Linked DNA regions of Homo sapiens: region 2 is linked to region 1. The links come from fine-mapping of genetic effects on gene expression. Tissue or cell type: whole blood. Region 1 holds a variant in brackets; the other region holds the start of a gene. All regions are shown on one strand. Distances are from middle to middle.

Region 1 (16,400 bases):
CACCTGTCTCGGCCTCCCAAACTGCTGGGATTACAGGTGTGTGTGCCACTGCGTCAGGACCTCTTTTTTCACTTTTAAACAACAGAATATAGAATATAATCCTAGGTTATTAGTTTTGAATTTATTTATGTATCATTCTAACATACAAATCCACTTGGAAATATCTATAAGCATGCTCACAAATTTTAATTTTATTTCTAAATGGTGGGATATGGAGGTAATTTATTGTTTTCTTCTTTCTACTTTTCTGGATATCATGTTATCACTTTGGTTAAAAAACAAAAAAAGCCCAACAACCATTTTTTTGAGCAAGAGAAATGGGAAACTTGTTTAAATTCGCATAGATTGAAGCTGGGATGGGAACTCGTATCTTCCAAACTTTAAAAACTACGAACCTGGCCGGGCATGGTGGCTCATACGTGTAATCCCAACACTTTGAGAGGCCGAGACAGGTGGATCACTTGAGGTCAGGAATTCAAGACCAGCCAGGCCAACATGGTGAAACCCTGTCTCTACTAAAAATACAAAAATTAGCTGGGCATGGTGGCACATGCTGTAATCCTAGCTACTTGGGAAGCTGAGTCAGGAGAATCGCTTGAGCCCAGGAGGTGGAGGTTGCAGTGAGTCGAGATCACACCACTGCACTCTAGCCTGGTTACAGAATGAGACTCACTCTCAAAAAACAAATAAATAGGCTGGATGCGGTGGCTTACACTGGTAATCCCAGCACTTTGGGAGGTCAGGGCGGGAGGATCACCTGAGGTCAGGAATTCGAGACCAGCCTGACCAACATGGAGAAACCCCATCTCTACTAAAAATACAAAATTAGCTGAGCGTGGTAGCACATGCCTGTAATCCCAGCTATTCAGGAGGCTGAGGCAGGAGAATTGCTTGAACCCGGGAGGCGAAGTTTGCAGTGAGCTGAGATCGCACCATCGCACTCCAGCCTGGGAGACAAGAGTGAAACTCCATCTCAAAAATAAATAAATAAATAAATAAATAGAAAGAAAAAGAAAAACTATGAACCTTACTGCTCTCTTACCTCCCATACCCTGAGGTTAAGGAACTTGAAGACTTAATATGATTAATAAATTAATATGCCAGAAATTACGATGCATTTAAAGTGCTTGACACAGTGTCCAGCAAGTAGTGCATAGATGTTCGCTGTTATAATAATGGTAATTATCTTTATTTAATACTATAATATGATATTAAAAATGTTATGATAGGCCAGGCGCAATGGCTCATGCCTGTAATCCCAGCACTTCGGGAGGCCGAGGCGGGTGGATCACCTGAGGTCAGGAGTTCAAGACCAGCCTGGCCAACATGGGGAAACCTCGCCTCTACTGAAAATGAAAAAAAAATTGGTGCTGGCAAGATGGCCGAATAGGAAAAGCTCCGGTCTGCAGCTCCCAGTGAGATCATGCAGAAGGCAGGAGATTTCTTCATTTCCAACTGAGGTACCCAGTTCATCTCACAGGGACTGGTTGGATAGTGGGTGCAGCCCACGAAGAGCGAGCCAAAGCAGGGTGGGGTGTAGCCTCACCCAGGAAGCACAGGAAGCACAAGCGGTCGGGGGATTTGCCTCCCCTAGCCAAGGGAAGCCGTGAGGGACTGTGCCGTGGCCAACAGAGCACTCTGGCCCAGATACTGTGCTTTTCACATGGTCTTTGCAACCTGCAGACCAGGAGATTCCCTCCAGTTGCCCATGCCACCAGGGCCCTGGATTTCAAGCACAAAACCGGGTGGCCGTTTGGGCAGACATTGAGCTAGCTACAGGAGTTGTTTTTTCATACCCCAGAGGCACCTGGAATGCCAGCGAGACAGAACCGTTCACTCCCCTGGAAAGGGGGCTGAAGCCTGGGAACCAAGTGTTCTAGCTCAGAGGGTCCCACCCCCACGGAGCCCAGCAAGCTAAGATCCACTGGCTTGAGATTCTCGCTGCCAGCGCAGCAGTCTGAAGTTGACCTGGGACATTCAAGCTTCGTCGGGGGAGGAGCATCCGCCATTGCTGAGGCTTGGGTAGGTGGTTTTACCCTCACAGTGTAAACAAAACCGCCAGGAAGTTCAAACTGGGTGGAGCCCACCGCAGCTCAGCAGGGCCACTGTAGCCAGACTGCCTCTCTAGATTCCTCCTCTCTGGGCAGCACATCTCTGAAAAAAAGGCAGCAGCCCCAGTCAGGGACTTACAGATAAAACCCCCATCTCCCTGGGACAGAGCACCTGAGGGAAAGGGCAGCTGTGGGTGCAGCTTCAGCAGACTCAAACGTCCCTGCCTGATGGCTCTGAAGAGAGCAGTGGACCTCCCAGCACAGCGTTCGAGCTCTGATAAGGGTCATACTGCCTCCTCAAGTGGGTCCCTGACCCCTGTGTATCCTGACTGGAAGACACCTCCCAGTAGGGGCCGACAGACACCTCATACAGGAGAGCTCTGGCTGGCATCTGGCAGGTGTCCCTCTGGGACAAAGCTTCCAGAGGAAGAAACAGGCAGCAATCTGCTGTTCTGCAGCCTCTGCTGGTGATATCCAGGCAAACAGGGTCTGGTGTGGACCTCCAGCAAACTCCAGCAGACCTGCAGCAGAGGGGCCTGACTGTTAGGAGGAAAACTAACAAACAGAAAAGAATAGCATCAACATCAACAAAGAGGATGTCCACACAAAAACCCCATCCGAAGGTCACCAACATCCAAGACCAAAGGTAGATAAATCCATGAAGATGGGGATAAACCAGCACAAAAAGGCTGAAAATTCCAAAAACCAGAATGCCTATTCTCCTCCAAAGGATCACAACTCTTTGCCAGCAAGGGAACAAATCTGGACGGAGAATGGGTTTGACGAATTGACAGAAGTAGGCTTTAGAAGATGGGTAATAACAAATTCCTCCGAGTTAAAGGAGCATGTTCTAATCCAATGCAAGGAAGCTAAGAACCTTGAAAAAAGGTTAGATGAATTGCTAACTAGAATAACTAGTTTATAGAAGAACATAAATGACCTGATGGAGCTAAAAAACACAGCACCAGAACTTCGTGAAGCATACACAAGTATCAATAGCCTAATCAATCAAGCAGAAGAAAGGATATCACAGATTGAAGATGAACTTAATGAAATAAAGTGAGAAGACAAGATTTGTTATAATTATCATTATTTAATACTATAGTATTTTCAAAGAATGAAAAGAAACAAACAAAGCCTCCAAGAAATATGGGACTATGTGAAAAGACCAAATCTACGTTTCATTGGTGTACCTGAAAGTGATGGGGAGAATGGAACCAAGTTGGAACACACTCTTCAGGATATTATGCAGGAGAACTTCCCCAACCTAGCAAGGCAGGCCAACATTCAAATTCAGGTAATACAGAGAACACCATAAAGATACTCCTCCAGAAGAGCAACCCCAAGACACACAATCGTCAAATTCACCAAGGTTGACATGAAGGAAAAAATGTTAAGGCAGCCAGAGAGAAAGGTCGGCTTACCCACAAAGGGAAAACCATCAGACTAACAGCGGATCTCTCAGCAGAAACCCTACAAGCCAGAAGAGAATGGGGGCCAATATTCAACATTCTTGAAGAATTTTCAACCAAGAATTTCATATCCAGCCAAACTGAGCTTCATAAGTGAAGAAGTAAAATCCTTTTCAGACAAGCAAATGCTGAGAGATTTTGTCACCACCAGGCCTGCCTTACAAGAGCTCCTGAAGGAAGCACTAAATGTGGAAAGGAACAACCGGTACCAGCCACTGCAAAAACATACCAAATTGTAAAGACCATCGACACTATGAAGAAACTGCACCAACTAACAGGCAAAATAACCAGCTAGCACCATAATGACAGAATTAAATTTACACATAACAATATTAACCTTAAATGTAAACGGGCTAAATGCCCCGATTAAAAGACACAGACTGGCAAATTGGATAAAGAGTCAAGATCCATCAATGGTGCTGTATTCAGGAGACCCATCTCATGTGCAGAGACACACATAGGCTCAAAAGAAAGGGATGGAAGAATATTTACCAAGCAAATGGAAAGCAAAAAAAAGCAGGGGTTGAAGTCCTAGTCTCTGATAAAACAGACTTTAAACCAACAAAGATCAAAAGAGACAATGAAGGGTATTACACAATCGTAAAGAAATCAATGCAACAAGAAGGGCTAACTACGCTAAATATATATGCACCCAATACGGGAGCACCCAGATTCATAAAGCAAGTTCTTAGAGACCTACAAAGAAACTTAGACTCCCACACAATAATAATGGGAGACTTTAACACTCCACTGTCAATATTAGACAGATCAATGAGACAAAATTAACAAGGATATTCAGGACTTGAACTCAGCTCTGGAACAATAGACCTAATAGATATCTACAGAACTCTCCACCCAAAATAAACAGAATATACATTCTTCTCAGCACCACATCACACTTATTCTAAAATTGACCACATAATTGAAAGTAAAGCACTCCTCAGCAAATGCAAAAGAACGGAAGTCGTAACAGTCTCTCGGACCACAGTGCAATCAAATTAAAACTCAGGATTAAGAAACTCACTAAAAACCACACAACTACATGGAAACTGAACAACCTGCTCCTGAATGACTACTGGGTAAATAATGAAATTAAGGCAGAAATAAAGATGTACTTTGAAACCAATGAGAACAAACACACAACATACCAGAATCTCTGGGACACATTTAAAGCAGTGTTTAAAGGGAAATTTATAGCACTAAATGCCCACAAGAGAAAGCAGGAACGATCTAAACTTTACACCCTAACATCACAATTAAAATAACTAGAGAAGCAAGGGCAAACAAATTCAACAGCTAGCAGAAGACAAGAAATAGCTAAGATCAGAGCAGAACTGAAGGAGATAAAGACACAAAAACACCTTCAAAAAAATAAATGAATCCAGAAGCTGGTTTTTTGAAAAGATCAACAAAACAGATAGACTGCTAGCCAGACTAATAAAGAAGAAAAGAGAGAAGAATCAAACAGAAGCAATAAAAAATGATAAAGGGGATATCACCACTGATCCCACAGAAATACAAGCTACCATCAGAGAATACTATAAACACCACTGTGCAAATAAACTAGAAAATCTAGAAGAAATGGATAAATTCCTGGACACATACACCCTTTCAAGACTAAACCAGGAAGAAGTCGAGTCCCTGAATAGACCAATAACAGGCTCTGAAATTGAGGCAGTAATTAATAATCTACCAACCAAAAAAAATCCAGAATCAGACGGATTCACAGCCGAATTCTACCAGAGGTACAACGAGGAGCTGGTACCATTCCTTTTGAAATGATTCCAAACAATAGAAAAAGAGGGAATCCTCCCTAACTCATTTTATGAGGCCAGCATCATCCTGATACCAAAACTTGGCAGAGACACAACAAAAAAAAAGAACATTACAGGCCAATATTCCTGATGAACATCCATGCGAAAATCCTCAATAAAATACTGGCAAACCAAACCCAACAGCACATCAAAAAGCTTATCCACCAAGATCAAGTTGGCTTCATCCCTGGGATGCGAGGCTGTTTAAACATATGCAAATCAATAAACGTACTCCATCACATAAACAGAACCAATGACAAAAACCACATGATTATCTCAATAGATGCAGAAAAGGCCTTCGATAAAATACAATAGCCTTTCAGGCTAAAAACTCTCAATAAACTTGGTATTGATGGAACGTATTTCAAAATAATAAGAGCTATTTATGACAAACCCACAGCCAATATCATACTGAATGGGGAAAAACTGGAAGCATTCCCTTTGAAAACCGGCACAAGACAAGCATGCCCTCTCTTACCACTCCTATTCAACATAATATTGGAAGTTCTGGCCAGGGCAATTGGACAAGAGAAAGAAATAAAGTGTATTCAATTAGGAAATGAAGAAGTCAAATTGTCTCTGTTTGCAGATGACATGATTGTATATTTAGAAAACCCCATTATCTCAGCCCAATATCTCCTTAAGCTGATAAGCAACTTCAGCAAAGTCTCAGGATACAAAATCAATGTACAAAAATCACAAGCATTCGTATACACCAATAACAGACAAACAGAGAGCCATTCACAATTGCTACAAAAAGAATAAAATACCTAGGAATCCAACTTACAAGGGATGTGAAGGACCTCTTCAAGGAGAACTACAAATCACTGCTCAATGAAATAAGAGAGGACACAAACAAATGGAAGAACATTCCATGCTCATGGATAAGAAGAATCAATATCGTTAAAAAGGCCATACTGCCCAAAGTAATTTATAGATTCAGTGCTGTCCCCATCAAGCTACCATTGACTTTCTTCAAAAAATTGGAAAAAAACTAGTATGAATTTCATATGAAACTAAAAAAGAGCCCACATTGCCAAGACAATCCTAAGCAAAAAGAACAAAGCTGGAGGCATCACATTACCTGACTTCAAACTATACTACAAGGCTACAGTAACCAAAACAGCATGGTACTGATACCAAAACAGATATATAGACTAATGGAACAGAACAGAGGCCTCAGAGATAATACCACACATCTACAAGCATCTGATCTTTGACAAACCTGACAAAAACAAGCAATGGAGAAAGGATTCCCTATTTCATAAATGGTGTTGGGAAAACTGGCTAGCCACATGCAGAAAACTGAAACTGGATCCCTTCCTTACACCTTATACAAAAATTAAGTCAAGATGAATTAAAGACTTAAACATAAGACCTAAAACCATAAAAACCCTAGAAGAAAACCTAGGCAATACCATTCAGGACATAGGCATGGGCAAAGACTTCATGACTAAAACACCAAAAGCAATGGCAACAAAAGCCAAAATTAACAAATGGGATCTAATTAAACTAAACAGCTTCTGCACAGCAGAAGAAACTATCATCAGAGTGAACAGGCAACCTACAGAATGGGAGAAAATTTTTGCAATCTATCCATCTGACAAAGGGCTAATATCCAGAATCTACAACGAACTTTAACAAATTTACAAGAATAAAACAACCCCATCAAAAAGTGGGCAAAGGATATGAACAGACACTCCTCAAAAGAAGACATTTATGCAGCCAACAAACATATGAAGAAAAGCTCATCATCACTGGTCATTTGAGAAATGCAAATCAAAAGCACAGTGAGATACCATCTCATGCCAGTTAGAATGGCAATCATTAAAAAGTCAGGAAACAACAGATGCTGGGGAGGATGTGGAGAAATAGGAATGCTTTTACATTGTTGATGGGAGTGTAAATTAATTCAACCATTGTGGAAGACAGTGTGGTGGTTCCTCAAGGATTTAGAATTAGAAATACTAATTGACCCAGCAATCCCATTACTGAGTATACACCCAAAGGATTAAAAATAATTCTACTATGAAGACATACGCACATGTATGTTTATTGTGGCACTGTTCACAATAGCAAAGATTTGGAACCAACCCAAATGCCCATCAATGATCGACTGGATAAAGAAGATGTGGCACATATACACCATGGAATACTATGCAGCCATAAAAAAGGATGAGTTCTTGTCCTTTGCAGGGACATGGATGAAGCTGGAAACCATCATTCTCAGCAACCTAACACAAGAACAGAAAACCAAACACCACATGTTCTCACTCATAAGTGGTAGCTGAACAATCAGAACACATGGACACAGGGAGGGGAACATCACATACTGAGACCTGCCAGGGGTTGCAGGGAGTAAAGGAGGGATAGCATTAGGAGAAATACTTAACGTAGATTATGGGTTGATGGGTGTAGCAAACCACCATGGCACATGTATACCTATGTAACAAACCTGCACATTCTGCACATGTACCCCAGAACGTAAAGTATAATAATTTTAAAAAATA[G/C]AAAAAAAATAGCTGGACATGGTAGTGTGCACCTGTAGTCCCAGCTACTTGGGAGGATGGGGCTGGAGATTTGCTTGAACCTGGGAGGTGGAGTTTGCAGTGAGCCAAGATCGTGCCACTGCACTCCCGTCCAGGCAACAGAGCAAGACTCTGTCTCAAAAAAAAAAAAAAAAAATGCTATAATAGAACTAAGCACACGATGTCATGGAAATATAGAGAAGGAAAATCTGCTAATCCTTTTGATGAACCAGGAAGATGATCCAGGGTGTCTTCCTGGAGGAGATAACAGACGCTGACTTTTAAAAGTAAGTAAAGATTTAGCCAGATAAAAAGTGAGGAGATGAGGATATTCCTGGCAGGGAGAACAGCATGATAGATTAAGAGAACTGGTCTGGCTGAATTGGAAGACATGTGGAGAATATGGCTGGAGAACAGGTGGAAAACATAAGTCATTGCTAGATGAAGAGTTTACATCATATGTCCTATGCTAAGGAGTTTAGACCTTAAAGCCAGTGGGAACTCACTGAAGGGTATTAAGCAGAAGAATGTCCCACTGATACTTTTCTGAACGCTCACTCTGGCTGTGTGGAAGACTGATAGAAGGGGACAGCTTTGGAGAGAGAGAGAACTGGTTATGGTGATGATTACTGTAACAGTCTTCCTAAGAACTCATGAGTCCTAAGGCAGAGGTAGAGTTGGTGGAGAGTTCTTTAGGACCGTGGTTATCAAAATATGGTCTACAGACACTTTCAGGGGGTCCATGAGGTCACAACTATTTTCACAATTACAGTAAGATCATATTTGGGTTTTTCACTGTGTTGACATTTGCACTAATAGTGCAAAAGAAATAATGGGTAAAACTGTTAGTGTCTTAGTACAATGAGGCACTAAAGTCCACTAGTAGTCTTGCGTGCTTCACCACCATCAACTCACAGGGAAAAAAAAGTTTTTTAAATATCCTTTATGAAGCAATAAATATTATTAATTTTTATTAAGTCTTTACCTTTGAGTACATATCCTTTTTTTTCTATCATTCCTGAATCACCAGCCTCCTTTTTTTTTTTTTAGGTAGGGTTTTTGCTCGATTGCTCAGGCTGGAATGCAGTGGCGTGATCTCAGCTCCCTGCAGCTTTGACTTCCTGGGCTCAAGCAATTCTCCCACCTCAACCTTCCTGGTAGTTGGGACCACAGGCATGCACCACCAGGCCCAGCTAATTTTTGTTTGTTTGTTTTGTAAAGACAGGGTCTCACTCTGTTGCCCAGATTGGTCTCAAACTCCTGGGCTCAAGTAATCTGCCTGCCTCAGCCTCTCAAAATGCTGGGATTACAGGCATGAGCCACTGTGCCCACAACCTTTTAATACTCTGTGTGATGCGATATACGAAGGATATACAAAGCATTTTAGTTGCAGAGTAAAATATGATGATTGTCCCAAGGAAGAGCGCTTTTGTAGTTAAGTTATGAACTGAACTAACCGTTTTATTTTTTTATGGAACATGAAAAAAACTTTTATATTAAAAGTTTTACCATACTTTTAACTTCTAGTATGGTAAATATGATTTCACCTGAAAGAAAATTACTAGTATAAACTAGGGTTATCAGACTTGCATATTTGGGAGACGTTTTCTTAAAAGTCAATAAAGTGAACCTCTCACTTCAAGAATAACAAATTTTTCTAGTTTTTATTTTAGTGTTTGTTACTAGTTGTATTTTTTGCCAATGATGAAAACTAAGTTTTCAGGTAAAAATTAGAATTTTGGAAGACTTGTACCCACCCCTGTGAATCTGACAGGTTCCCAATTCTTGAACATTTTTCTGATGACACTAATGGGTGTTGTGGGTTGAATTGTGGCTCCAAAAAAGACATGTTGAAGTCCTAATTTTTTATATCTATGATTGTGACCTTGGCAAACAGGGTTTTCAGATACACTTGAGTTACCATGAGGTCATACTGGATTAGAGGAGGCCCCAAATTCAATGAACTGGTGTTATGAGTATAAATTTGGATACAGAAATGTAGCCACACCCAAGGAAGTAGGCCTGTGAAAACAGAGGCAGAAACTGATGTAATGCAGCTACAAGCCAAGAAATACCAAGGACTTCACACCACCACCAGAAACTCAGAGAGGGGCATGAAAGGATTCTCCTTTAGCCCTTTAAGGAGGAAACCACCCTGCCAACATCTTGATCTCAGACTTCCAGCCTTCAGAAATGTGACAGAATAGATTTCTGTTATTATAAAAAACTACACAATTTGTGGTACTCTGTTACGGCAGCCCTACAAAGCAATACAGTGGTGCAAACATCAAATGTGATTACTTGATATTTAGAGGGAAATGGGTCAATGTCAGGAAGGTATACATGACTCAGTGAATAAAATTTTCAAAGCCCAGCACACAATGTCACAAGGTCATGCATTAAGGGGTAAAAGATTCATTCAAAGTATAAAATAACCCAGTAGATTTTAATATAACAGAGTACAAAAAATTCACTGATATGATTTCAGAATCTACTTTACAGCTAACCTTTAAGAAACTACCACTTGTTGAGCTTTGGTGTAGCAACAAAAGAAGTATCTACAATTACCTAAAAATGATGTTAAAACTCCCCTACCTTTTCCATCTACTTACCTGTTTGAGGATGAATTTTTCTCTGTATACTTCAAACAAAATCATTGCATTTTGGTTGCAACTGAATATATTGCAAGAGAAGCAGATATTGTAATTCAGCTCCTTCTGTTAAGCGACATTAAGAGATTTACAAAAATGTAAAGCAGTGCAACTCTTCTTATTTTTTTTGTTTTGGAAAATAGTTTTCTAATAGAAATGTTAGTGTTAATGTGTCAATGTGTGATTCTTGTAAATATGTGGTGGGCTTATTAGTTATGTCAATATGTGATGGGTTTATTATTTTAAATAAATATATATATATATTTTTTAACAACTGGTAATCAATTTATTAAAATAGTTGACTTAAGCATCTGCAATGGTGACTTCCACCTCAACTCCTGGCTCAGTACTGATGGAAGTAATCTGCTTAACAATCTCAGAAGGACTGTGCAAGTCAAAGAGTCGCTTGTGAATTCTCATCTGGAAACGATCCCACGTCTTAGAACCTTCACCACAAGGAGTTTTTCTTGTAGTGATTCTCAAAGTCTTGGAAGGCATTCGAACTCCTCCTTTCACTTTGAGATTCTTTGCTTTTGCGCCTCTGATCAAGTCAGCACCCACCTTTTCCAAGGATTTTACGCTGCGGCTTGTTAGGGTGATTCGAATTCGGTGAATTGCCACCTCCGGCTCCACGGGTGCTTTTCCGGTATCCTTAAAAGCCATGGCTGCTGCGCGGCTTCATGACCGACTTGTTCCTCGGCGGCGAGAGCGAACAGCGGTGAGTCAGGAGCAGGAGCATGCGGACCAGAAATCCTCGCACCTACGACCGCGTCTTCCTCTTAAAGAAATATTTTTAAATTTTTTATTTTAGCTTCTAGTATGGTAAATATCTATAAATATGGCTCATTTACATAGAGTCTCTTTGAGATACCAATGATTTTTAAGAGTGTAAAAGGATTCAGAGACCAAAGTTTGAGACTCACTAGTTTAAAAGGTAGAAATAATGGCTGGGTGTGGTGGCTCACACCTGTAATGCCAACATTTTGAGAGGCTGAGGTGGGAGGATCACTTGAGGCCAGGAGTTTGAGATAGCCTGGGCAACATAGCAAGATCACCAGATCACCACACACAGATTTTTTTTCTTAATTAGCCAAGCCTGGTGGCACACACCTGTAGTCCTAGCTACTCTGGAGGCTGAGGCAAGAGGGTCACTTGAGTTTTGGAGTTCAAGGCTGCAGTGAACTGTGACACCACCACTGCACTACAGCCTGGGTGACACAGACCAAGACCCTATCTCTGAGAAAAAAAAATGTAGAAATAAAAGAATTTGGCAAGTGATCGGTGGGGTTGGGAGAGAGAGAAGGCTTGTTCCAGTCTTAGGAATTATTCTCCTGATTGGGTTATGTCAAAAAGAACTGGCTTTATGGGAGATGATATGTTCAACCTTGGAAATGATCAGTTTAGGTTGCCTGAAGGACACTCTGGTAGAGCCAACCATTAGCCAAAGATCTATGGGTTTGGAGTGTGGCTGTCTGAACATATCAAATTCACATAGCTGCAGTAACTAATGCCCCAGTCAAGGAGACAATTACTAAGGTAGAGAATCAAGTGAGAAGAGTGCTCAGAATGGAGTCCAGGGTTATATCAATATGGAGGCATAGCAAGAAAGCTGGCTAGAAACCAATCTATGGGTCTGAAAAAGAGTACTCAGTGGGAAGAGAAACCCCACAGGGAGTGATGTCACACAAACCAAATAAGGCAGAATTTTCAAGAAGGGAGGGGTCAATATCAGCAAATATTGCAAAGATACCAACTGTGTCATTACTGCCTGGCTGGCAGCAGTTTTAGAGGTGGTAAGAGACGTCATGCAGGGAGCAGGTATGGTCTGCTCTTTAAATAACAAGCTTGAATTGGACAGACATTCATTATTTTTTTATTTTTTTATTTTGAGACAGCTGATGCCCAAGCTGGAGTGCAGTGGCGCAATCTCAGCTCACTGCAACCTTTGCCTCCCTGGTTCAAGCAATTCTCATGGCTCAGCCTCCCAGGTATCTGGGATAACAGGCGTGTGCCACCACACCCAGCTAAATTTTGTGTGTGTGTATATATACACACATATAATATATACACATAAGTATATACATATACAAAAATAATACATATAAATATAATATATATTATATATATTTAGTAGAGACAGGGTTTCACTATGTTAGCCAGGCTGGTCTCAAACTCGACCACAGGTGATCTGCCTGCCTTGGCCTCCCCAGGTGCTGGGATTACAGGTGTGAGCCACCGCTCCCGGCCACACATCAATAATTTAAACACTGCCTGGCAAGTGGAAAGTGTTCAGCCAACTGGTGTTACTGCTGAGATCGAAGGGAAGGGAGAAATGCTGGCATCCCTAGCCCATCCAAGTTCCTAGTTGGAGGGACACAGTGTAGCTGGCTCCTGCCTGACATGCCACCCTTTTCTGGAGTAGATATGAGAAGCAGGTGGTCCTGCTGGGGTGTAAGGAAGATGGCAGCATTCTAAAGTATAATGATGGGGCACAAACACAAAATCGTTTTCTTTTTGAGTTACTGTCTTCAGCCACCCTCTTTCAGATCCCGCTTTCTAGTTTATTAAAAGGTAGTTTAAAATCTCAGACTCAGCCAGGCATGGTGGCTCATGCCTGTAATCCCAACACTTTGGGAGGCTGAGGCGGGCGGATCACGAGGTCAAGAAATCAAGACCATCCTGGCCAACATGGTGAAACCCTGTCTCTAGTAAAAATACAAAAATTATCTGGGCGTGGTGGTGCGTGCCTGTAGTCCCAGCTACTTGGGAGGCTGAGGCAAGACAATCGCATGAACCCAGGAGGTGGAGGTTGCAGTGAGCTGAAATCACGCCACTGCACTCCAGCCTGGACAACAGAGTGAGAGACTCTGTCTCAAAAAAAAAAAAACAAAAAAACCCTTCAAACTCACTTATCAAGATTGGAGCTGGAATTCTGATGACAACCAGCACTTCCTGTGAGGGGTGGACAAGAGAGAAGGGCATGGGGTGAATGTCACTCTCTAACCAGCCATTGTCGTGATCCTCTCTGTGGTCTCTGTGACCCTCTGGCTAACACAGCCTGGCCTCCTTGCCCTCGGGGTAGCAGGCATTTAGGTGTTGGGTCCGCCATGGGCTCAGATGAGAGCACTTCTGGGTGCTCCCAGATGGGAAGTCCACCTGTTACACCCAAACGAGTTAGAGAAAACGCCACACTTTGAGACGAATTAAGAGTCCTTTATTTAAGCTGGCGGCCAAAGAGACGGCTAATGCTCAAAATTCTCTTGGCCCCGAGGAAGGGGCTTGATTAACTTTTATACCTTGGTTTAGGAAAGGGAGGGAACTCAAATGCAATAATTCTACAGAAGTAAAAACATGCAAGAATCAAAAGAAGCAAATGGTTACAGAGAGATAAACAATTTAAAAGACAAATGATTACAAAAAGCAACGGTACCAGGTGCAGGGCTCTAAATCCTTCATTAGAGTTAGATATAGATGCTATGCCGGACACGAACTCAAGGCTTTATGTTGTTATCTCTTTGAGAAAAATCCTGGGAACTTCATACATGGTTTGTTCCAGTACCTTATCAGTTAACTGGGCTCCTATGAAATGCTGAGGATCTGCTTACACAGGTTAACTCCTTGAGGAAGGGGGTTGGGTATGGAGCACTTAATGTCTTGTAAATCAAAAGGTCAAATGGAGTTTATCCGGCTTTCCCAGCCAGGGAGAGTCTATTCATATGGGAAACATGGCTGGGAATTAAGGAGACAAAAAAAGGGAAAATTTAAAGTAGCGAGCTAGAGTAAAAAACAAGGTTAGGCATTGCACACCTCTGCTATCTTCCCGCCTCCACTGCTCCCAACCCAATAGTCTGCCCCTCTGCTGAGTGGCCTGGCCCAGAGCACAGCCCTCCAGTGTGAAATGCGGCAGACCATGTCCTCAGGATACTCTGCTGTCTGCCTTTGCCATCTCCATCACTCTACCAGCCTCCATTCTCCCCAGACTTGGGATGTGGTGGGGGGTGTTTGTGGTGGTTGGTAGGGCATCAGGGCTGCTCTGCTAACTCTTAAAAAGCCCCAGGAAGGTGGTTGTGCCTAAGTTGGCAGCGCTCTTTAGTAGGGAGAGTACTGTTGCCTACTGTTTTCAGCTGTTGGCTCTGGTGCGTGCAGTAACAGGAAAAGCCCCCCTCAGACCATTAAGTGGCAATGGTGAGAAATGGGAAAGGGGCTGACTGAGTCCAGAGCTGCAAGAGATAAGCTTACAGCAAACCAAGGCCAGATCTCAAGGCAATGATAATTCAAGTTAAGTCATTTGGGCCTGATCCTGAGGTTTAAGGGGAGTCTTTGAAAGGTTTTATGGAAGAGAATGACATAATCAGATATGGGTTTCAGAAAGATCAGTCTGGTGAAAGACAAGAAGAATTAGAAGACTACAAAATGATTCAGGAGAAATACGGTAAGGGCCTACATCGGGATATGATGGGGAACAGAACAGAATCACAGTTAAGATGCACATTGCCTTTGACAGGCCCCCTGGAGCTGAGCACCACCGGCCCTTCTGTGTACAGCACTGTGCTTTGCCCACCAGCTAGAACATCTCTTCCTCAAACGGGGCCCCAGAGCTGATGTGGGTTAGACTTGGCCAGAGAGACCTCTTCTTTCTATATCTGCAGCTGGGCCTACTCTCTATCGCCTAACCCACTGTCACAGGGTGGGTTTTCCAGCAGACATTAAAAAGGAGTTTGGGGATACAATATGCTTATTAAGGATCAGCACCTCTGAAAGGAAAGGGAAGAAGCAGGATCAGGCCCAGGAACAAGTTGAACTGTGATGCGGGCCTGACAAAATGCTCAGGAGCCCCTAGTAGAGGTGGGGAGTGAGGATTGCTTGTCAGCATCTAAGATTAGGTCCCCACTTCATTCGGCAACCAGATGCAGGCTGCCCCAGGAGGGGGCATGACTGTGTGTGGGGCCACTTTACAGCTGAGGCAGAGCACAAATCAACTGAGTCCTGGAGACCCTGCAGCTGAGCCCTGGAGTCCCTGCAGCTGGGTGGCAAGCCCTCCCTTCTAGGGGAATACAGACAAGGCATCTTACTTCTGTCCTGCTCTCGCCTCTGGGCCTCTGGTCAGGCCTGCTCCCCGAGCCTGCCTCACCCACCTCTGCAGCACCTACGGCTCAGGGAGCTTTGCCAGAAGGGCTTTGGAGAAGGAAGCAGGAAGAACCTTAGTCTTTGGAAATGCTATTTATCTGTAATTGTAATCCCAGGCATCCATAATTAGGAGGGTAAGTTTACTTCTGAAGAAATTGTGTCATGCCTTCCCTGCTAAAACATACTTGGGGATTTCCTGCTCTTATAGATTGTATCTGACTCCCTTTCTGCATCAAATAACGTAAAATCAAGAATGCTAATCCTCAAGACTTGGGCCTACTTAATTGCAACAGGAACACGCCCTTAAGACACAGATCACTCAGGCTTTTGTTTGTGGCTTAAGAATGCCTTTAAGCAGTTTTCCGCCCTGGGTGGGCCAGGTGTTCCTTGCCCTCATTCCCGTAAACCTGCAACCTTCCAGCTTGGGTGTTATGGCCATTATGGACATGTTGCGTTTTATTTATGACCAGTTTTGGGGCCAGTTTATGGCCAGATTTTGGGGGGCTTGCTCCCAACACCTGACCTAGAACCAGATTCTTGAAGAAGTGTCTAGGTTGGGCGCGGTAACTCACGCCTGTAATCCCAGCACTTTGGGAGGCTGAGATGGGCGGATCACCTGAGGTCAGGAGTTCGAGACCAGCCTGGCTAACATGGTGAAACACCATCACTACTAAAAATACAAAAATTACCCGGGCACGGCAGCGGGTGCCTGTAATTCCAGCTACTTCGGAGGCTGAGGCAGGAGAATCGCTTGAAC
Region 2 (16,400 bases), 28 kb before region 1:
CTGGGTGACAGTGCGAGACCCTGTCTCAAAAAAGAAAAAAAAAAAAAAAAGGTCCCAGGTTGACTTTCTGTCTCTCTCCTCACTCCCAATCCTCCCTAAAGGTCCTAGGTTGACTTTCTGTCTCTCTCCTGACTCCCAATCCTCCCTACACACACATACACACACACAGTCCCATGACTGCGACAGCAGAGGCAGGCTCTTAGCCAGCACAACTCAGTGCCTCAAATATGTATCATGTGACTGAAATAGCTATGGCTCGGCTGATAAGATGTCTGGGATGTACTTGCACGTAATCTGGGGTTGACCATGGGGTTACGGATCAGCCATGCGTTTCAGTCATAGTTGAAGCCAAGGGATATGATATAGGGTTCCTTACACTCTTCTTTGTGCTTTTGTATGTTTGAAATTTTCCCTAATAAAAAAGACCTTTTATTCTTTTTTTATGCATCATGTGAACGATCATTTTTCTCTCTCAACTTGTCACTTGGTGGGGGTTTCCATTTTAATTAACTTTCTGCTTCCCTCAGCACAGAAAACCAAACAATGGCCTGCTGTCATGGTAAGAAAAAATATCAGGAGCAAAAGTGTGCGGCTTGTGAAAACCTCAGTTATAACAATAACAGCTATTACTTAACTGAATGCTTCTTGTATACCTGGCACTGTACTGAGCCTTTCACCCACGATTTCATCTAATGCTCATAATCACCCTATGAGATAAGGTCTGTTATCCCCATTTTACAGAGAAGGAAATTGAAGCTTAGTAAGCTTAAGTAGCTTGTCCAAGTCTACATAGGCGATACATAGTGGGCAAGAAAGCAAATCCCGACTTGCTTGCGCTGTTAGTTTTTCCCATTCCCACAATATATATTTAGCTACTTTAAGACTTTATAGGTAATTGAACTAAATCCATGAAGTTTTAAAAATGGTCATACCCTTTAAAGTATAACCCAGTAATTTCAACTTTAGGACTACCCTATGGGAATCATCTGGAAAATGAACAGAGATTTCTTCATGAATATTTTATTTTATTTCATTTCATTTCATTTTGAGACAGTCTTGCTCTGTCACCCAGTCTGCAGTGCAGTGGTGCGATCTCAGCTCACTGCAACCTCCGCCTACTGGGTTCCAGCAATTCTCCCACCTCAGCCTCCTGAGTAACTGGGATTATAGGCACCCGCCACCACGCCTGGCTGTTTTTTTGTATTTTTGGTAGAGACAGGGTTTCACCATGTTGGCCAGGCTGGTCTCGAACTCCTGATCTCAGGTGATCTGCCTGCATCAGCCTCCCAAAGTGCTGGGATTACAGGAGTGAGCCACCACTCCTGGCTCTTCACAGATATTTTAATCACAGTGTCAATTACAATAAGAGAAAGTTAGATGTGGTTGGCTGTCCAGTGTGGCCTCATGCAGGAGGCCATTCCCACTGCTCCAGTCATTGGTGACTCCCTCCTCAAGGTCGCACGGCATCCTGCACTAATCTCTTGTTACCCCTGCCTCCTCCTTTGAACTATGAGCTTCTAAAAAACTAAGCTCTTCTTATTTGTCTTTGGTTTAGAGTGGGCACTCAAATATGTGGTGAATAAATTAATAAGTGACCTTGGAGTTGCTCATTTAACATATGCAGACGTTGAAGACTGGGGTATTAAAGTTAAGTTTTTGAAGGTCACAAGGGCAGACTGGAACTCAAGGCCATGTGCAGGCCTCTTCTCTCCCCACTGTACTGTCAGTACCTGTAGACTTCTAAAGAACCGACGGGTGATGGCTGAACACCTGAGGCAATGGTGGGAAAGGCAGAGGCAGTTGGAGGCTCCTGAAATTTTATAGGCCCTCACTGAAATGATCAGATCCCAGGGGCCCACACATCCTTGGAGACGCCGAACAGCTGATATGGGTGACGAATGAAAGAATACAGCTTTAATGCAATGTTAACCATGAAATGTATATATGGGAAGGTTAAGCAAGAAGGCAAGAGACATAACTGCACATACAGTATGTTCTCAACCATTTACAAAAAATATATCCATTTAAAAAAAAAAGAAGAAGGAAAATTGCCAACTGTTAAGAGGGGTTGCCTTTGGATAGCGGAATTTTTTTCTGTTTCTCTATGTTTTTTTGTACAGTACTTTCCAAATTATCCTCAATGGTCAAGCTTTTTCTTTTTTTTTTTTTTTTTTTTTTTGAGACAGTCTTGCTCTGTCACCCAGGCTGGAGTACAGTAATACAATCTTGGCTCACTGCAACCTCCGCCTCCAGGGTTCAAACGATTCTCCTGCCTCAGCCTCCAAAGTAGCTAAGATTACAGGCACCTGCCCACCATGTCCGGCTGATTTTTGTGTTTTTAGTAGAGATGGGGTTTCACGATGTTGGCCAGGCTGGTCTTGAACTCCTGACCTCAGGTGATCCAGCTGCTTCAGCCTCCCAAAGTGCTGAAATTACAGGCATGAGCCGCTGTGCCCAGCCCCTAGCTTTATTTTTATAATCAGAATAAATAAAATTTAAATCACTACATTGATTCTGAAGGCTAACCTGACCTTTCTGGTGTAATAATTACTTAGAAAATCATCTCAGTATTTTAATATGGTGAAACTGTACTGCTCAATGCTACTGTTACATATAAGCCTATCAAAAATACATCTATAGGAGTCAGACTGCCATCGTATAGTTTTCTGCAGACAAGCAAGAAAAAATTCATTTGCCTCTAATTCAGTTCTTATGGAACAAATCACTGATACTACATCAGAGCAACTAATTCCCTGTCTAAATTCTCAGGAATCTAATGGTCCAGAACAATTACTGTGAATTTCATTAATGAATTATTCCTGTATATTTTTAATGCAACCATGTCCTCATATTTATGGAGGGCCAGATTTTCTCTGAAGCCTTCCCTCTTGTATTCTGTCATTTACCACCTGCTCTTCCCTTTATTCATGAAGAGAAGGGGACCCCAGAGGTCAATACTGAGACAAATTAGATCAATTTTCTCTGAGCTCCTGAGGGCAATTTCTAAGGGAGAGCCAAAAGTGTTTTAAGCAAGGGTGGTGGAGCTAGGCTGGACTTCCCTCGGACAAAGAATGGGTGGGTCTCCATGCTCTTTGTAATCCCAGGCTAAGCACAAGACCCCCTCCACTCCCACCACCTGTTTGTCGGTAAATACAGAATACATAAATAGAATGACTTGAGATATTACTCACTTATGTGTGAAGGTTCTGGGTTTTTTTCTTTTTTTTTTTACTAGTTCTAGTCACCTTAGAGTCACACAAACTTCACAACTGCTCAAAGCCTCCCTTGATAGTTTGGCAGGCCTTGCTTTACACCTCTTTGTGACAGGTGAGGTCTTCTAATCTGAGCACATGAGCTTACCCTACGGGGTCATTCTCCCACTAACATTCCCTACCACTTTAAAAGCTGGTCTCACACCAGTCAGAATGGATATTATCAGAAAGTCAAAAAGTAACAGATGCTGGCAAGGTTGCAAAGAAAAGGCAATGCTGATACACTGTTGGTGGGAGTGTAAATTAGTTCAACCATTGTAGAAAGCAGTGTGGGGATTGCTCGAAAAACTAAAAATAGAACTACCATTGACCCAGCAATCCCATTACTGAGTAAATACCCGAAGGAATATAAATTGTTCTACCATAAAGACACATGCGCGCATATGTTCACTGCAGCACTATTCACAACAGCAAAGATCTAAATACCCATCAACAGTAGCCTAGATAAAGAAAATGTGGTACATATATATATATACTATGGAATACTATGCAGCCATAAAAAAGAATGAGATCATATCCTCTGCAGGAACAGGGATGGAGCTGGAGGTCATTATCTTTAGCAAACTAATGCAGGAGCAGAAAATCAATACCACATGTTCTTACTTATAAGTGGGAGCTAAATAATGAGAACACGTGGACACAAAGAGGGGAAACGACAGACACCAGGGCCTTCTTGAAGGGTGGAGGGTGGGAGGAGGAAACGGAGCAGGGAAAATCATTACTGGGTACTAGGTTTAGTACCTGAGTGACTAAATACTCTGTACACCAAACCCCCGTGACACAAGTTTACCTGTATAACAAACCTGCACATGTACCTCTGAACCCAAAATAAAAGTTTAAAAAAAATAAAATTTTTGATCGAGACCATCCTGGCTAACAAGGTGAAACCCCGTCTTTACTAAACATACAAAAATTAGCCGGGCGTGGTGGCGGGCACCTGTAGTCCCAGCTACTCGGGAGGCTGAGGCAGGAGAATGGCGTGAACCCGGGAGGCGGAGCTTGCAGTGAGCCGAGATTGCACCACTGCACTCCAGCCTGGGTGACAGAGCGAGACGCCATCTGAAAAAATAAATAAATAAATAAATACATAAATAAATAAAATTTTTTAAAAGCTGGTAAGCACTCAAGCCTGCCAAGAGGTCTGACCAGTCATAAGAATGCATCATGTGACTTAATGCCCTCAACAACCCCAGGAGATTCATACGCCTTACTCCCCTCACTTTACACAACGCAGAGGCAGCCTGCTGGTTTTCTGTTGTTGTTGTTTTGTTTTATTTTCTGTTTTTGAGACAGGGTCTCGCTATGTCCCCAGGCTGGAGTACAGTGGTGAGATCGCGGCTCACTGCAACCTCCACCTCCCAGGCTCCAGCGATTCTCCTGTCTCAGCCTCCCAGGTAGCTGGGACCACAGGAGTACGCCACCATGCCCAGCTAATTTTGTTCTTTTATTTTTTGTAGAGATGGCGGTGGGGGAGGTAGTCTCACTATGTTGCTCAGGCTGGTCTCAAACTCCTGAGCTCAAGGAATTCGAACTCTTCCCTCCTCGGCCTCCTGAAGTGCTGTGATTACTGGAGTGAGCCACCACACCTGGCCCAGCCTGCTGGTTTTAAAGTAATACTAGAGACAGGAAGATGACCCCAAACCCCTCCTATGGCCTGAGCATCTTCCGCTCCGCTGGAACAGCCTGTGCAGAGACTGGGCAAGGAGAACCCTCACTGTACAAAGAAGGAAACTGGAGCCCAAGAGGTTAAGTAGCATGAACAGCTAAGTGGCGCCTCTCTCTTCTGTCTTCTCACTGCCTCTTGCCTTATGATTTCATACAAAGCAGCCCCTAAATGGGGAAGCACAAGACAGAGACATGGAGGAACCCAGCACAAGAGTAAAGTGAACCGTTCAGCAAACACTAAAGAAAGCTGATCCCCAGAGATAATTGCACTATTCAGCATACCTACTACTGGGATCCCTGGCTTTGCTTAATAACCAAACCTATTTAAATCCATAAGGAATTGGTTCTCTGACTTAAAGGGTGTTGTTATAACAACCATAACTTTGGCTTTTCTCTGGAGTACCAACAACTACTGGTTTGATGCAACCATTTCCCTTTTACGCAAAAAGGTGCACTAAAAGTAGACCACGCATTGTTGTGTATCATTAGGCAAGCAATTTCTCTTCTCTAGGCCTCACTTTTCCCATCTGGAAAGTAAAAGGGTCCAGTCACATGATTTCTGAAGTTCCTTACAGGGTCAGCGTCCTGGTGAGAAAACTATACTGCAGTGCCAAGAGGAATTGATGTAGGATTTTTCTTCTTGGTCCTCGGGCCAGCAATGCCCCACCTGTGCTCGCTCGGCCATGCAGGTGTGTCCCAGCTCACTGTATTATAGCTTGTACCCGCGTTCGGTGGTTCCGAGCTCGTGCACCACACCAAAGGATAATGAGGATACACTGGACATTGAAGGGAGAGGAAGGCAGATAAGAATTTTATTGAGTGTTGAAAACAGCTTTCAGCAGAGAGGGGACACCGGGTTGGTCCCCTACCTGAAGACGGAAAAGTTCCCCAATGTGGCTGGGTCAGGGGCCTTTTATGGACTCAGAATAGGGAGTGCATGCTGACCGGTTTGTGAGTATGCAAAAAAGATGAAAGCAAAGACACCACTCAAAGGTGGGCACGGCAGCGTAGAAAACCAATTAGGAAAAAGTGGGTATATGTAAAACAGGCGAAATGTAGGAATCAATTAGGGGAAAGCACGCCAAACAAGTTCTCACTCTGGTCTGAGGATTTAACTCGTAGCTTGGCTTTCAGGCTTTAAACTGTCTTTGGCCTGGAGGTGGGGGTTTCACCGGGTACCTGACCCTATCTGCCTAGGCATCCAGCTGCCTCCTGTTGCTACCAGAATCACATTGAAAGTGAAACACGCTGGAAACTCTAAGGAAAAGAAACAAGTGTAACTAGGAGATAACAGGCACAGTGCAAAACAACATGTTAACTTTGGGGAAATCCGGCTTCTCAGTGTTTTTTTGGTTTTCCTACTTCTCTGCCAAATACAAAAATAAGCAGCTACTTCCATGGGACTCTCGTTAAAAAAAAAGTAACTTTAATAAGATCAGTGAAAACAATGCTTTGTTCTCCCACAAGTGGCTCAGGAGTAGCTTGCTAAGACACACTTTCTTCCCCGTGGGGCTGATGTCAACAGCCCATGCTTTTGCCCAAACAAAGGCCTCCTGGCACAAGGATGAGAGGCAAAACATCTGAGTCTCCGTAGCTGGCCTTATTCCAATTTGAGGGGAAGGGGCAGCCAGGAGAGAAAAATAACTAAGCTTTTGAAAGGCTTGAAGGAGAGTAAGGAATTACTAAATCTATTTTTTCTCAACAGAATAAAGAATTCTTGAAAGGGATAATGGAAGGGTGCAGCTTTCTATTTGAATTACTCTTTGTTTCACCCTATTCTGCCTAAGGCCACTGCCTTTTAGGCCAATCACAGAATCCCGGTTTTGCCTTTAGTTGCCCGCTGAGCGATGCAGTGGGAGTTGGGAGACCCACACTCAAGTGTTCTCTCTGTGGCCCGTTTCACCCGGTTTAAACTTGGACAAGTGGCTGAACTCTCCGGCCTCAGCTTCCTGCCTGTAAAATGAGAAGGCTCCCTAGATGCTCTCTAGACCTTTTCAATAACAGCGGAATAGGATTGGAGGCTCTCCAGTTCCCCCCCCGGGGACAGGTTAATCTTCAGCCACACTAGCCAAGGTGAGGCAGCAGCCCGCCCGCTCAGCAGGCACACACTGGGGCGGCGGCGCCTCCATTCCTGCTCACACTGCACGCCCACAACCTGCACCAACACCATCGCCTCAGAGACCAATTCACCGCGAAACCATCTCCCCGCTGCAGATCGTGTCCGATTAACATCTGCAAAGCTGAGCTGAGCATATGTAAGCAAAGAAAAAGCAAAACAAACAAGAGTTCTCTTTTTCCGGACCTCGGAATTTCTTTCAAATAAACTCAGAACTGAAAATTGTACGTCCCCAGCTAGAATACGAGGTCTCGGCTGGCCTTGCTTGCGAAAATGCATTAACAAGCCAAAAGGGGCTAGTGACATCTGGGGTGTCTGGGCACACGGACACGGGCCTCAGAGGCAAAGAGCAAGACCGCACTGGGCGACTCGTACATTCTTCCCGCAGGCTGAGGAGGCGACCAAAATATCCCCACAGAGGCAATCGCCGGAGTGCGGGGACAATAGTGCACCCAGCACTCTCTTTTTTTGAGGGGCACCCTTAGACCCTTAACCCAACCCACATCTCTAAGAGACCTCCAGGAGGTGAAGGTGAGGGGTGGTCCACTTCACCCAAAAGAATGCGCCACGGCCGGGGACCGACTCAGCCTGGAGTAACCTTTTTGTAGCTGCTTTCTTGTTTTGGTTTCCCTTTTTAAGTCTGGCAGTTTAGTCTGATGCCCAAGCGGTACCTTTTAAATGTCTCTCTCGCCCTCTTCCAGCAAGTGGCGCCTCTAGAGCCACTCCCTCCCCCGAGGCTGAGACAATGGCCCGGCACCGCAGGGCGGCCCCTAAGGGTATGCAGTGCGTCCAGCTCTCCGGGCAGGGCGCACGTGCGTTTGTTATGGTGCCTGTGCCCCCTCCGCTGCCGCGGGCCTCAATTTGTCGATCCGTAAACCCAGACTCTGCAAGGCGCAATGCCCCCACGCCACCCCACCCCATACTGACGGTGCCGTGGAGAAATCCGTGTTCCCCGGGGCTGTGCGCACGTGGGTTTGTTGTGGATCCGCAGGCTCGCGGAGCCAGAGAGAAGCCAGGGTGGCCCTTTGGCCCTGACAAAAATGCACACACCCCCAACCAAAAGGCGGCCAGCCCCGGAGCCAAGGCAGCTGAGGCGGAGCTGGAGAGAGATTCCCTGCGCCCTACGCGCGCCGCGGGCCCCGCGCCTCCGCTATCCTCCCGCGCCCCTTTGCATCACACTCCTCCCGGGATAGCCCGGGCCGCGCCGCCGCCCACCGCACCCCCTACTCACTCGCTGCACTCTCGGCCGCGGAGGCTGCGGTTGCTCAGCACGCTCGGTGGCGGCCGCCCGCTCCGCGCCCACGCCGGTCGGTATCGGCTCCCTTTGTTAACGCCGGGCAGTGCCCCAGGCGTCTTCCCCAGCCCGGCCCTGCCCAGGACTCCCCTCCCCCAGGTGACTCCAGAAAACGCGCTCGGCAAGGGCAGGATCGCCCGGGAGCTGGGGACCCCACTAGGGAGTCTCGAAAGAGGGGTCCGCTGGGGAAGAACGGGGGACAGAAGACGCACAGTGGAAGGGACTGGAGAAGGAAGGAAGAAGAGCGCGGCGGAGGGGCGGGAAGGAAGCGAGTCGCCTCCGTATGCAAATAGAGTTGCGAAGACTGGGTCGGTCTCCGCCCCCACTCCACCTCTCGCCACCGGCCACACCGCGCCCCAAACCGGCCTGGAGGTCGCTAGCGAGCGGGCTTGGGGTTAAAGACTCTTGATGAAGGCACTGGGTGATGCTAGAATCCTGCCTGCTCTCAAGGAGGGTGGATCGAGGGCCGAGTGGGAGGGGCCACGCGGCTGCGCAAGGACCCCTAAATGCCTCTTCCCCGCTTGGCCGCGAGGGGTCAATCCAGCAGTGTCCGGCTTTTGGTCCTAACATGCGGGTGCTGTACACCCGGTCTCTGCTACCGGCTGACTGCGAGACCCTGAGGAAGTCGCTTAACCTCTCCGAAGACTCGTGTTGCTCTTATCTAGAATAGGAAAGAACAAAATCTTTCACTGCGTTTGGCATTAACCTCCTAACATTGAGGCATGACTCCTACTGGGCGCTCTCAAATGGCAAATACAGAAGGAGAGGAGCGTCCTCGAACCCCTGCACCCAGAGGCTTCCACCCCAAGCTGCAGGCTGAAAGACTGAAGCCTCAGCCTGGATGGTGAAGGGAGCGAGGTTCTTTCTTTTCACCCGGACGACGGTGGGGCTGCTGGGGAAGGAAAGAGGATTAACCAAGCTGCGTACTGACCATCCCCGATAGCCCCAAGGCGATTTCCCTAAGAAAGAAAAACTGCCCAACAGGAGGGCGGAAGGGGCCTTTAAGGCCTCCAGTCCAGCCTCCCATAGCCCAAAGAGAGGATGTGACTACCAGAGGCAATAGTCATATCCCAGTTGTCTACTGAGTGCACACTAGGCACCAGGCTGTGTGCTGGGTGGGAAAGGGGAAAGGAAGGAGATACTGGAAGGTTTGGGGGTCCTCTGGGAACACAAAGTCCAGTGCACACTTAAAGTGCCTGAAGCCCAGGCCCAGAGTTCTGTCTCCAAATGAGGTGCCTACCCCACATCACCAACCTTGGAAAGGGAAGTTACATCCGCACCCTGTCCCCAGCACCCTTCTTCCAAACACTGCTTCCTCCCTGTCCTGATCCTGGCTCCCTTCTGCTGATACTGTCATTCCCTTCCCTGCTGCCCCTGAGGCATTTTTGCTCAGTACAAAGAGCTCCAATTGAAGGGAGTGCCAGCCAGAGTGAATTCAAATCTTTATGACCAACTCGCTGTGCCTTCTTGGGTGAGTTCCACATCCTGTGAGCCTCCCTTTCCTCTTCTGCAAAATGGAGATATTAAGGAAAGCGTTGTTTTCAGGATCCTGTGAAATGACCTACGTGAAACACGTAGCTTAGTGTTTGGCATATAGAAGGTGCTCCTGACAGTAAAATGTATGTATGCGTGAATGAATAGAAGCAGCCAAGTTCAGAAGACTATTTCTGGAAGGATGCTACATTGAAGATTTTAGGCCCTATTCGAAAAAGGGAAAAAAAAAAAGGAGGCTATTAAAAGATTCTGTGCAGTAGCATGACATGCATCTTTGTATTTTACAAGGATTCCTCTGGCACCACACTGGAAAATAGATGGCAGAAGCAGAGAATGCAAGAGACTAGATTGGAAGCTGACATCAATGGAGATATAATAAGAGCCTGAACTGTGTCAGTGACTGTAACAAGACAGAAGAAAAGGACATCTAAATAATAGCTACCATTTGGAGATCTGACATGGTTTGGCTCTGTGTCCCCACCCAAAAATCTCATCTTGAATTGTAATCCACATGTGTCAGGGGAGGGACCTCCTGGGAGGTGATTGGATCGTGGGGGGCGGTTTCCCCCATGATGTTTTTGTGATAGGGAGCTCTCACGGGATCTGGTTGTTTGATAAGTGTCTGGCATTTCCCCTGCATTCTCTCTCTCACCTGCCGCCATGTAAGATGTGCCCTGCTTCCCCTTCACCTTCCACCATGATTATAAGTTTCCTGAGGCCTCCCCAGCCATATGGAACTGTGAGTCAATTAAACCTCTTTTGTTTATAAATTACCCAGTCTCAGGTAATTTATAATTTTCTCAGTAGTGTGACAATGGACTAATACAGGATTCAAAGCACCTTATTTATTACATTGTCTCTCCTTTTCATCAGATAAGTAATGGTCTTAGTCCTATTTTATGGATTAGGAAACTGAAGTCATCTAGGAAGTGAAGAGAGAATTTGACACATTCTTCCACTTTCTTTGAAAGCTTTAATCATCTCCTTCATCATCACCCATATGTCAACATTACTTAAGAACTAAGAACAGCCTGGTGCGGTGGTTCACGCCTGTAATCCCAGCACTTTGGGAGGCCTAGGCGGGCGGATCATGAGGTCAGGAGACCAAGACCATCTTGGCTAGCACAGTGGAACCTTGTCTCTACTAAAAACACAAAACAAATTAACCGGGGCTGGGCGTGGTGGCTCACGCCTGTAATCCCAGCACCTTGGGAGGCCGAGGCGGGCGGATCACAGGTCAGGAGATCAAGACCATCCTGGCTAACATGGTGAAACTCCATCTCTACTAAAAATACAAAAACAAAATTAGGCGGGCACGCGATGACGGGCGCCTGTAGTCCCAGCCACTCAGGAGGCTGAGGCCGGAGAATGGTGTGAACCCAGGAGGCGGAGCTTACAGTGAGCCGAGATCACGCCACTGCACTCCACAAAAGCAGAAGGCGCTCTTTCAGAGGTTGTCCAGTCCCCACTCCGCAGTTCTCTTTTGCAGAGAACTGGAAAACCAAATTAAGGAGAAAACAAGGGAAAAGGTTATCTCAACACTGAGATAAGCACAGATGATATGACACGTGCAAAAATTTCCTGGGCGTCTGAGACAGATGAGTGGGCAAGCAAGGGTGCTCCTGGTAAAATTCCAGGATGGGGGCCATTGTGGAGCAGCCTCCACCAAGGTTCTCTCTTATCACTTAGGACCCTCTGACCTATAAGTGAGAGGCAGAGGCTGGGGCATTACTTTGGAGATGATCCTGTCCTCCCAGTCTATACATGTGAGGCTTCTCCTCCCATTTTCTCTGGGGTCCCTGCCTTGACAGGTTGGTTTTGGTTTTTTTGAGAAGTACAGATACCCACTTTCCCTCTGGACAGTATCTCAGTTCTGGGCCCTCCACCCACAGCTTCCTGCTATGGTCTGCATGTTGTATCCCCCCAAAATTCGTACAATGAATTCCTAACCCCCAAGATGATGGTATTTGGAGGTGGGGCATCTGGAGGAGGTGATTAGGTTATGAGGGCAGAGCCCTCACAAATGGAACTAGCGCCCTTATAAAAGAGACCCGGACCAGGCATGGTGGCTCACACCTGTAATCCCAGCATTTTGGGAGATTGAGACGGGCAGATCACCTGAGGTCGGGAGTTCGAGACTAGCCTGGTCAACATGGTGAAACTTCATCTCTACTAAAAATACAAAAAATTAGTTGGGCGTGGTGGCAGTCACCTGTAGTCCCAGGTACTCGGGAGGCTGAGGCAGGAGAATTGCTTGAACCCGGAAGGCAGAGGTTGCAGTGAGCCAAGATCACGCCACTGCACTCCAGCCTGGGCAAACAGAGCAAGACTCTCTCTCAAAAATAAGTAAATAAATAAATAAATATTAAAAAGTAAAATAAAAGAGACTCCAGAGAGCTAGCTAGCCCCTTCCAACATGTGAGGCTGCAGCTAGAAGGTACCACTTATGACCAGGAGACTGAGCCTTCTCTGAACACCAAGTCTGCCATTATTTTAATGTTGGACTTACCAGCCTCTAAAACCATAAGCAATAAACTCCTGTTGTTTACAAGCCACCCGATTTATGGTGTTTTTGTTATAGCAGCCCAAACAGACTAACACATTCCCCATCCCTCCCCCAACCCTTGACCTCAACCTTAGCCAATATATAATATTTTTAGGTAATGCATTGCTCAGTCATCATTTCAGACATCTTACGGATTAATACACATAATTTTCATTTACAACAATCCACTTGCAAATAATATGTTCATAACACTCTTGAATTGGAGGTGATGTTTCATGAGGGGAAAAAAAAAAGACAATAAGCAGTTGAAAATTTCCTCCCAAATCTTTCTTCCCCACCCACTACAGATGTTCATCAAGTTCCTTAAATAAACCTCACAGCTCTCCTCTTCATATCACGTCTCCTCTTCAGTACATGTTGTCTAATATGAGGATAGGTTCGGGGCCTAAAAGAACTGTGGTTTGCCTGTGCCCACCATGTTGGCTTTCAGTGCTGCCAGCCTTATGGATGATTTTATATATATATATATATATATATATATATATATATATATATATATATATATATATGTTCACAGCTAGTCTACTAAGTCTGTAGAACTCAAGTTTAAAAGTAGAAAGAAAATAGCAGCATGCTCAGCCCCCTTGCCGTGTGATGCCCTGTGCCACTATAGAACTCTGCAGACTCCCCACTTGCATGAAAGCTCTCACCAGATACAGTCCATTGACCTTGGACTCCTCAGCCTCCATAACTATAAGAAATGACTTCCTTTTCTTTATTAAAAGAGAGAGAGAGAGAATAACAGCATCTCTAATTTAAGCACACAGGGATGGCTCCTGCTGATTGCTGTGAGGCAGACCTGCACAGATGGGCTGATAAAGCAGAGTGGGGGCAGAGAAGAAGAGTGCTAGAATGCAGGGGCTGGAAACTAGAAACAGGTCTCATGAAAGGATCACAGCCACAAGACTGGGAGGATGGCTGGCCCCACAGCCCCAAGTACAGCAAGAAGTGACTTGCTGGCTCCAGAAACCTCAGAGTAGAACATGGGCATGGCGAGATCAGGATAGGTCAGAGAAATAGACATATACGTATCATGTGGGCACATGAGTAGTTAGGCTGCCCTTCACCCAATTATCTTCTGTGTCCAACCCCATCCTAAGTCCCTGGGAAGATACGAGGAGAAACCAAGACTCTGTTCCCAAATCACATGTGTTTTAGCAAAATATCTCAGTTCGTAATAATGATTTTCATGTATTGAACATCTACTCATAAGCTATGCCCAGGAGACCAGATACACTGATAATGGCAGGGAATACAAGAGCTCGGGGACTCTGAGGAAGCAAAGATGCTTATAATAAATTCTCTCAAAAAGATTCAGGAAATTGGCTTCTCTTGGGAGACTTCTATCAGAACCAAAGTAGAAATTGCCTCCTATGTATTAATGATCTAAGGATGACAGTTAGAATAAATCGTAGGGATAGTCAATGTTTTGTGCAAGAGGTTACACAGGTCAATGAAAGTTCTTTGCAGTTAATTTCTTTGAGTGGAGGAGGATCAGTGTTTGCTGCCTGGTGGTGATCTGTCCCGAGCCTGCGTCCGTAAGGTCTCATGTTTTTAATAGTGTTTTTTCTGATGTTACAGTTAACATTTGCTTTAGAAAATTCAGAAAAGTCAGACAAAGTTAAAGAAGCAAGGAGGAAAAATTGTCAGCCCATCAACCACAAACAGAATTGAACCATTTGGCCTGTTTTCTTCCTGGGCATTTTTCTGCAACTTTCTATAGTTAAAATTATAATGTATGTACAGTGATATCCGGCTTTTCTCCCCCATTTAAATATGTCATAAGCATTTCCTATGTGTATTTAACAATAAATGTAGTCATTCAGTTTAGCCCTTATTACATGCAAAGCAAGCATTCTTCAGCAAATTATTAGTGGTTTATTGTACTAATGGTTGGCTATACAAGAGACAGTTTCGTGGTTGAGAGGATTCTCAAGTCAGGTTTGAATCCTGACTCTTCTACCTCCTAGCTTGGTGACTTTGGACAAATTACTTAACTTCTCTGGCTCTGTTTCCTTAACTGTAAAGTAAGGATAATAGTATCTGCCCCATAAAGTTATTTTAACTAATACATGGGCCGGGCATGGTGGTTCATACCTGTAATCCCACCACTTTGGGAGGCTGAGACAGATGGATCAACTGAGGTCAGGAGTTCAAGACCAGCCTGGCCAACATGGCGAAACCCCGTCTCTACTAAAAAGTACAAAAATTAGCCAGGCATGGTGGTGGGCACCTATAATCCCAGCTACTCAGGAGGCTGAGGCAGGGAGAATTGCTTGAACCTGGGAGGTGGAGGTTACAGTGAGCTGAGATCACGCCATTGCACTCTAGCCTGGTCAACAGAGAGAGACTCTGTCTCAAAAAAAATAAATTAATTAATAACAAGAAAAGTGCTTAAAGCAATACCTGGCACAGTAAGCACAGAATAAGCGGTAGCTATTAACAATATGTGAATGCGTCGTAAATTATTCAACCATTCTCCTACAGCTGGAAATTAAGGTTGTTTTTGGTCACGCCTGTAATCTCAGCACGTGGGGAGGCAGAGGCTGGTGGATCCTGAGGTCAAGAGTTCGAGACCAGCCTGGCCAACATAGTGAAACCTTGTCTCTACTAAAAATACAAAAAATTAGCCAGGCATGGTGGCGGGCGCCTGTATCACAACAAGCTAATTTTTTGTGTTTTTTGTAGAGACGGGGTTTCAACATGCTGCCCAAGCTGGTCTCGAATTTCTGATCTCAAGTCATCTGCCCGCTTCACCCTCCCAAAGTACTGCGATTACAGGCATGGGCCGTGGCACACAGCCAGTGAAGCTGATTTCTTTTTTTTTTTTTTTTTTAGATGGAGTCTCGCTCTGTCTCTCAGGTTGGAGTGCAGTGGTGCGATCCTGGCTCACTGCAACCTCCGCCTCCTAGGTTCAAGCAATTCTCTTGCCTCAGCCTCCCGAGTAGCTGGGATTACAGGCACCCGCCACCACACCCAGCTAATTTTTGTATTTTAGTAGAGACAGGGTTTCACCATGTGGGCCAGGCTGGTCTTGAACTCCTGACCTCAGGTGATCCGCCCACCTCAGCCTCCCAAAGTGCTGGATTACAGGCATGAGCCACGGCACCCACCCAGTGATGCTGAATTCTTAACCAAAATATATGACTAGTTACAGCAAGTGACGGCCAGCGCTGAGTCCTGGTGACTTGAACATTCAGTTAAAAGGATTACCCCATCACTGACTGTGTTTTACTCACATGTGTTTTCTACATCTCACCCCAAGGAGAGCCAATATTTTATGAGAGAGGCCACATAACACACAGCACACCAGTTTAGGAGACAGCAGGCCTGCATTCCACATTAAACTCTCACAACCAGCCTGCAGACCTCAGCTAAGGCACTTGCCCTTTCTTGTTCTCAGTTTACTACTTTATGAACAAGGGCAGTTGGACAAAATAAGTTGTTTTCAAGCCTGGCTGAACTTTGGAGTCACCTGCTGAAATTGTTTATAGTATAAATGCTCATTCTCCTCCCCAGGATATAATGGTTCTGGGGTCAGACGCTGGGTATCTATAATTGTTAACAAATTTCCCAGGCAAGGCTGATGAGCTGCAGGGTTTACAGACAAGTCCACTGGGTTACCTCTAAGGCTCTTTCTAGCTTCTCACAAAGAAATTCCTCCAAAGGGAAAAAGCCACCAACCATGCCTGAACATGTTCGTGCTCCTTCACCAAGGGAGCTTTCTCTGCTGGTGCTGCCCTGAGTGAGGAACCCTTTGCCAAGGGACTGTGGGCTTTAGACAGCAGAGGCGTGGTTACAGCCTCAGCAACAGTCTCATTGATTATCATCACCGGTAGTTAATTAAACACAAATAGCTGGGCAATAACCTTTGGAAAAAGCCACATTTCTTATCATTAAGCTATTTCCTGCTCTTCCGATTGTAGGTGCTTCAGGAGCCACAGCTTAAAGTGCAGACATGGCCAAGTCCAAGAACCACACCACACACAACCA

What was found. PIP is the estimated chance that this variant, and not a neighbour inherited with it, causes the effect.
Region 2: it holds the start of ST6GAL1, and the variant in region 1 is fine-mapped to the expression of ST6GAL1 in whole blood (INTERVAL, PIP above 0.99).

The regions. Positions count from the first base shown.
Region 1 is chr3:186,894,977-186,911,376 of GRCh38, reverse strand. It overlaps the pseudogene RPS20P14. Among named protein-coding and RNA genes, the nearest start is that of ST6GAL1, 27 kb to the left of the region's middle. RefSeq lists enhancers at 1,054-1,748, 1,767-1,816, 1,887-1,986, 1,749-2,444, 12,928-13,448 and 3 more. The variant G/C (reference allele first, on the strand shown) is at 7,848.
Region 2 is chr3:186,922,719-186,939,118 of GRCh38, reverse strand. ST6GAL1 (ST6 beta-galactoside alpha-2,6-sialyltransferase 1) reads right to left here and starts at 8,593. Exons shown (of 8, transcript NM_173216.2): 1 at 8,285-8,593. It also overlaps the pseudogene RPL29P9. RefSeq lists enhancers at 6,147-6,206, 6,227-6,276, 8,370-8,978 and silencers at 8,173-8,362, 8,603-8,682.